2 linked regions of the Homo sapiens genome follow. The protein of the gene in region 2 purifies or fractionates together with the protein of the main gene of each other region. This does not show direct contact. Each region holds a gene or a part of one and is shown on either strand. Other genes may lie near its edges.

What was found.
Region 1: the proteins of CARS2 (region 2) and TMBIM1 fractionate together in Homo sapiens (co-fractionation; one large-scale study listed by BioGRID). This does not show direct contact.

Annotation. Positions count from the first base shown.
Region 1 is NC_000002.12:218,285,802-218,289,612, forward strand, and holds part of TMBIM1 (protein lifeguard 3), read right to left. Parts: intron 1,497-3,811; exon of another isoform or gene 1,406-1,496; intron 980-1,405; exon of another isoform or gene 539-979; intron 138-538; exon of another isoform or gene 1-137. UniProt on the Homo sapiens protein: Negatively regulates aortic matrix metalloproteinase-9 (MMP9) production and may play a protective role in vascular remodeling.
Region 2 is NC_000013.11:110,640,606-110,644,016, forward strand, and holds the end of CARS2 (probable cysteine--tRNA ligase, mitochondrial), read right to left. Parts: intron 3,376-3,411; exon of another isoform or gene 2,728-3,375; intron 1,917-2,727; coding exon 1,710-1,916; intron 1,004-1,709; coding exon 932-1,003; 3' UTR 812-931; downstream 1-811. UniProt on the Homo sapiens protein: Mitochondrial cysteine-specific aminoacyl-tRNA synthetase that catalyzes the ATP-dependent ligation of cysteine to tRNA(Cys). In addition to its role as an aminoacyl-tRNA synthetase, has also cysteine persulfide synthase activity.

The sequences.
Region 1 (3,811 bases), on a different chromosome or scaffold from region 2:
CCTCCGGGGACCAGGGCTGCCGGGTTTGGCAGCTTTAGAGCCTGCTCTTGGGCTTCTGCCCAGCCTCCATGAGGGCCCTGGCCACTTCCACATCAGCAAGGCCTCCACTAGGGATGAGGTTTGGGGCTGGCATCTGCCTAGGTAGCAGCAAAGGGGGAAAGGGTCAGTGTTTACTTTCGTAGCTATGTCTAAGGGTGGAGGCTAGAGAAGAATGGAGGGTAAGGGAAGGAGGGAGAAGGGGAGAGAGATCACGAGACTGACACAGAGTGAGGACTAGAAATCAGATCTGGGTTCTGCCAGCAGCTACTAGAGGGGCTCACAGTCTGCAGGGACTTTAAGGTCCCCACTGGAAGCCTGAATTTTCCCAAAATACAGTAGGCATTCACCTTCTGCTTGTTTTTGTTTTTCTTTTTGTTTTGGTAGAAACGGGGTTTCACCATGTTGGCCAGGCTGGCAAACTCCTGGCCTCAAGTGATCCACCCACCGAGGCCTCCCAAAGTGCTGGGATTACAGGCATGAGCCACTGTGTCTGGCCCACCTTCTGCTTGAAGGAACTCCAGCAACATGGAGCAAGCCCCTTGTCTGCAGACAGCTCGATTAGAACATTCTTCCTTGCCTCACAATGCCTGTTATCAAGGCATTCAGACTGTGCCCTATCCTTGCCCATTATAGATCTAAGTTTGCTCCTCTCTCAGGGCCCCAGTCCCCCATTAGGAAGGAACCAGAGCCCCTGCTTTCTACCACAGCAGCGGCACAAGTGGGTGAGCTCAGACAGCAGGACTTGCTGGGTGTCAAGGTTTTCAGATGCAGAGGCGGAAGCACCTCCTCCCCTGGAGCCCTCTCAGTGTGGTAATCCTGCTGTCTGCCTACTGAGGCCCCGGCTGGGGCTCTCCTGGGGGTATTTGAAGGGTTAAGGCTCCGGAATCTGCAGAGGAGGCCTGAGCTACTGGGGTTACAGCAAGAGGAGAGTATGTGTACTGGAGGGAGGGATGGAAAGGAGCAGCTGACTGGTCCAGGCAGCCTGCCCTCCTCCCTGCCAGAGACGGATGCCCAGAGTGGAAAAAAATAGCTCAGAATGCACATCTCAGGAAACCCCACCCAGCAGGCGCAGGAGCACAGCCCAGATCTGACGATTTGTTCCCCTCCCTTTTCCTTTATCTGCCCCCACAAGAAAACACTTTATCCTCCTACCCCAGGGCACAGCTGACCTCATAGCCACGAGAGCAAATGAGTAAAAAGATACACCCAGGAGTGTCTGGGCAAGTCACCAGGCCTGATTCTGCACCAAGGGGGCCCAGAATCAACTAAATATCCTTCCATCAGCCTGGACTTTGGGACTAAGAGGATGAAGCCACAGGGATCTAAACACTAAAATATCAGAGCTGGCTTAGACTTTGGATCTCACCTGGTCATTTGACAGACAAGGAAACCCCAGAGCCAAGAAAGTTCCTGCTCCACCCCAGAACAGCCCTCTTCTTCGTCATGGGTTTGGAACTTCCCTTCCCAGCCCCGCCCACTCTCTGAGTGATAGACACCAGCACACACCCTCTCCCAAGGAGGGGCCAGAACAAGCTACCATTCTCTCAGTTCTCTAGTGACCTCTCAGCTCAGAAACAGTTAAGACCGGGCCGGGTGCAGTGGCTCATGCCTGTAATCCCAGCACTTTGGGAGGCCGAGGCAGGTGGATCACGAGGTCAGGAGATCAAGACCATCGTGGCCAACATGGTCAAACCCCATGTCTACTAAAAAATACAAAAAATTAGCTGGGCGTGATATCCCACACCTGAAGTCCCAGCTACTCGGGAGGCTGAGGCAGGGGGATCGCTCGAACCCGAGAGGCAGAGGTTGCAGTGAGCCAAGAACATGCCATTGCACTCCAGCCTGGGCAACAAGAGTGAAACCCCATCTCAAAAAAAAAGACAGCCAGCCCTCGACTTCTGGCCCCCAACTCGAGGCCACCCCTCCCAGCCCCCTCTCTAGCCAGGGTGGCCTCTCTCTGGACCCATGGAGACCGAGGGGTGGCTCCAAGCTCCCAGGAGGGAGAGGCTGTCCTGGGGATCACGAGAGGACCCAGGCACCGCAGCTCCGCCACCCTTGTCTGGAGCAGAATCCTGTGATCAGAATGGTAATCTCGGGTTACCCCACCCAAGTCAGGATGGCCTGGGAGTACAGATAAGGGAAGAGGAAGCCATTAGCAGGCTGATGCTATAATACTTCTGAGCACAGTCCCTGTTCACTTCCTTCTTTGTTTCATCTCCTGTCTTTTCATTGAACTTCAAGATTAGGAGGGGAAAGAGACAGACAAAGGAGACTGATAACTAACCCCAAAAAAGAACTAGGGAAGGGGCCAGGCATGGCGGCTCACGCCTGTAATCCCAGCACTTTGGGAGGCCAAGGCGGGCGGATCACGAGGTCAGGAGATCGAGACCATCCTGGCTAACATGGTGAAACCCCATCTCTACTAAAAAATACAAAAAATTAGCTGGATGTGGTGGCGGACGCCTGTAGTCCCAGCTACTCGGGAGGCTGAGGCAGAAGAATGGCATGAACCCGGGAGGCGGAGCTTGCAGTGAGTCAAAATGGCGCCACTGCACTCCAGCCTGGGCAACAGAGGGAGACTCTGTCTCAAAAAATAAATAAATAAAATAACTAGGGAAGGAAGGGAACCACTTAGAGTAGTTGAACCACTTCCAGTACTTACTATATAACTAAGGAAGTACAGGTTGAATATCCCTCATTTCCAAAATCCAAAATGCTCCACAATCTAAAACATTTTGAGCACCAAGATGACACTCAAAGGAATGCTCACTGGAGCATTTCTGATTTCGGATTTTCAGATTAGGGACGCTCAACCAGTAAGTATAATATACATAGCCCCAAATCCGAAAAAATCCAAAATCCATGTGCTTCTGCCACTGTAGATGTCTGCCCCCATGGCTATCGTGACTATATGCTCGAGTAGGAGAGTAAAGTGTTTTCTTGGGGGTGGAAGGGAGTTGGGGTGGGTAAAAGAAAAGGGAGGGAAGGAAATTGTCAAAATGGTCCCATTTTGGATAAGAGACACTCAACCTATAGTAACTAAGGCACATCTGATCCTTGCAACAGTGCTGTGAGGTATTCTTACCCTCATCCCACTCTATAGATGAGATAACTGAAATTCAGAAAAAAAGAGATCTAGGGTCCCACAGCAGGCAAACAGCAGAGATGAGTTTAAGCATAGATCTCACACCTGATTTAAAATTCAGCCTCTTTGCTTTTATATCAGGCAGGAGTAGAAGCCCCTGAGGCATCTGTAGCACGCACCTGCGTGAATAGGCAGCACCAGGGTGGGGCCAAGGCAGTAAAGATCAAAACGATAGATAGAAAGGAGCTGAGCAAGCTGTTGTTGCTACCATTATTTCTTTCCCCTGCGGAAAGTTGATCTGAAGCCTGGGTCCTGGGCTAGGAGGTGGGGACCTGAAGTTCTTGTCCTGGCTTTGGGACTCACTCCACTGTGAGAGCCACATCTCTAGACCCAGTTTTAACATCAGTAAGACAATTCCCCTCAAATGAAAGAATGGCCAGGCGCGGTGGCTCATGCCTGTAATCCCAGCACTTTGGGAGGCCGAGCCAGGCGGATCACTTGAGGTCAGGTGTTCGAGACCAGCCTGGCCAACATGGTGAAACCTCGTCTCTACTAAAAATACAAAAATTAGCCGGGCATGGTGGCACATGCCTATAATCCCAGCTTCTCGGGAGGCTGAGGCAGGAGAATCACTTGAACCCAGGAGATGTAGGTTGCAGTGAGCCGAGACCATGCCACTGCACTCCA
Region 2 (3,411 bases):
GTCCCGCTGCTGCCTGTGCCCTTGGGATTCAGAGATGCCAGTGTGACAGGGAGAGGCCTGGCCCAGGGTCTGCGAGCAGGAAGAGTGGAGAGGGGTCACCCTGCTGAGTCACTGACAGCTGTGGCGCTGGGCTTACCACAGAAGGGTGAGATCAGGAGCAAGGTGGGTGCTTCAGGAGGCCACCGGTCCTGTAGCCCAGGCAGCCTGCCGTGTGCTGGCCGCCACCTCCCGCTCAGGAATCCTGTCTGTCACAGCTCGCCAGCTGGCTTTCAGCCTGGCTGCCCTGACTCCTCCGGAACCAACCTTTCCCAGGCCCAGCTCGACCCCATCACTGCTCTGCACAGACCATGACCACCAAGATGGCCTGCAGCTGCCAGGATGTTAACTGCAGCGGGACTGCAGACGGGTTCTCAGCTGCATTTTTCCTATGCTGAATACGTTACTTTTGTAACCAGAGAGAAAACGTAAGATTGTGTTCTTGCTGGGGGAGGTGTCCCGGGGTTAGCATTGCTGGCGTCCCACCTCTGCTTCAGACTATGCTGCGTGGCCCACCCACCTCACCCATCCCCAGCCCCTCCCTCAGGAGGAAACAGGCTGCATTCTGCCGCCTCCCGGGGTCCCTGCTCTTCTGTTGGCTGTGTTGTCTGTTCCCTGGGCACAGGGCCAGCAGGTCTCACGCACAGGCACGTGTGCTGCTGGATGCTACTGAATGTCTGACACTACTTCACTCAATCGACGGTGAGTCTGTAGCCACAGAACGCAGTGAGTGTTTAGGCTCAGTTACTAACAAACAGACGCCAGTGGGACACTGTTGGTTGCCTTACTTTAATGCTGACCTAGCAGCCCCGACAGGAAGCTTTAACATAAAGCCTTGACCCTGAGAAGCATGGGTGCGTCTTGTCGTGAGCAGGTTCATGGCTGTGCTCCATCCTCAGCCCGCTGATTTTTGGTCTTTTGTCCTTTGATCCAGCAGTTCCCACGTGGATGTTGTACTGCTTCTGTCCTGGAGAAGAAGAGTGAGGTCCAACTCTGAGCAGACACCACGTCATGTGGCACAGGGGGCTGACAGGCGTAATCAGGTTCAGGGTGCCTGTTCCCTCACCGGCCTGTCCTAAAAAGCTTGCCAGGCGCTTAGAAAGGGCCCCACTACCTCCAGCAGAAGGCCAGGAGCTTCAAGGCACCTGCAGGAGGTGGCGGGGGCTGAGCAGGACCCACGTCCCCGTGCTCAGCGTCCCCTGCAGCCAACTTGGCCCCTCCCTCACGGCCCTCCCACCTCATTTTTTATGGGGGTGGGTTTCTCTACTCAGAAGCATGGGCAGGGCGCAGTGGCTCACGCCTGTAATCCTGGCACTTTGGGAGGCTGAGGTGGGAGGATCACCTGAGGTCGGGAGTTTGAGACCAGCCTGACCCACGTGGAGAAAACCTGTCTCTACTAAAAATAAAAAATCAGCCGAGCATGGGAGTGCATGCCTGTAATCCTAGCTACTCAGGAGGCTGAGGCAGGAGAATCGCTTGAACCTGGGAGGCAGAGGCAGAGGTTGTGGTGAGCCGAGATCACGCCATTGCACTCCAGCCTGGGTGACAAGAGTGAAACTCCGTCTCAAAAAAAAAGCATGGTCACGGGGGATGTCTGGGCCTCTGATGGCCCCACGTCCTGTTGACCTACCCGGCTCCTGGGGTGATGTCCCTGACCTTGGTGCGGCACTCACCTTGATGTTGATGCCGTGGGCAGTCAGGCCCCGGCGCAGGGTGTCGCATGCTTCCAGCAGGGGCTGCCTTTCTAGGAGCTGCTGCCGCCGGGCGTCCCCCGTGGCCTCGGGCATGGCCAGCGCAAACTGCCGGACCTTCTGCCGGAACCGCACCAGCTCGTCCACCACACCATGCAAGGTAGCCTCGCTGCCGTCTCCTGAAACGTACTGAAGCCAGCAGGGCGCGGTTACGTCCCCCGGAGACTGTGGATTGTGGATGCCCCCTCCCCACCCCGTGGTTGGGCTCTGGGCCGACACCCACCCAGCCCTGGGCTTCCCTGATTCCCTGCAGCTGGGCCTCTTTCTGGGTCTGGCAGGGATGGGTACAGCCCGCGAGCGCTGGGCTCTGGGCAAGGCTCCACTCAACTCTGAGCATCTGTCGTCCAAGCAAGGCTGAGTGATCCTCACTCGGGAGTTGGAAGAAAGGGCTGGGGGCTGCATGCCGCCCCGCCCTGAACACAAACGCTCCCTGGCTTCCAGACCTCACGCAATTGTGGCCGAGGTATCAGGAGCAACCTGAGGATGAGGCTGGGGGGCAGCGACTGAGCGCTTGCACACGTGTGTTTCGGCAAATGGTCTGAGATTCACAGCCTCAGGTGCTGAGGACGGGATTTGCGCAGAAGGCCTCGCGCTGTCCTCCCACTGAGAACAGATCCTGGGGCGGTGTGGAAGGGGCAGCTGTACCTATTTGTTAAATCCATGTGTGTAAAATAAGAAACAGACACAACATTTGACCTTGGTGTCAAACTACTTAAACCTCACACACCCCTCAGTTATTGCTTCCATGATAAAAGACAGTTTTTGTTATTACAGAAATATGAGCCCAGAGTGGGCCCAGACATTGGGCCTTGCGGCCAGAGGAAGGTGAATGAGATATCTTTGACAAGGGCTAGGCAGAGCTTGGCCAGATCCCACTTTTCTTACTCAAAACAGACTCCGGAAAGCCACCCCTAAAAATGAACATGTACATTGCAAAAACTTGGGTCATCTCACACCAGTCGACTTTTATGTGATTGGCAACAGACGCCGGACTGCTGGAAAGGGGAACTAAGTCTACCAGGTGATCAACAGGTATACAAATGAGCCAAACTTGGAAAAGACACTATAGTTCTCTGTTGAGAGCCAGCGAGACATGTTTGGCCCAGAGCCAGGCCTTCAGCACACCTGCTTGGGCCCCAGTCCCAAGCGGCGGGACCCTCGGGGTGCTGGGCAGCTGGTCTAGAGTGGCAGCCCCCGTCCAGGCAGCAGCAGCCGAGCCACACCCCAAAAGAGCCAGAGCGCCTTGTGCTGAGAATTCTACAAGGGTGTCCAAAGAATGACAGGGATGTTCAGGGACACAGCGCCAGCCCCAAGGGGCCTCTGTCAGCCACATACAAAGTGATGGTGGGGACTTTAAGAATAAGGCAGGAAACCTCAAATCTGTATTGATAGAATAAACGAGTTTCAGGTGAGCCTGATAAGGAAGAGGACATTTTCATAGGATCCAAGTCTCTTTGCAAAAATGCTCTTGAGTTACAACGGAAGAGAAGGAATGTGGAGAAGCCTGGCAGCGTCCACCTTCACTGCACAGCCAGGGTGAGCCTCGCTGGGAAGGTGCAGGTGACTCGTGCCTGTCGGGGAGCCCGTCCTGTCCGTACAAAACATGTGCCAGGCAAGGGGGCTC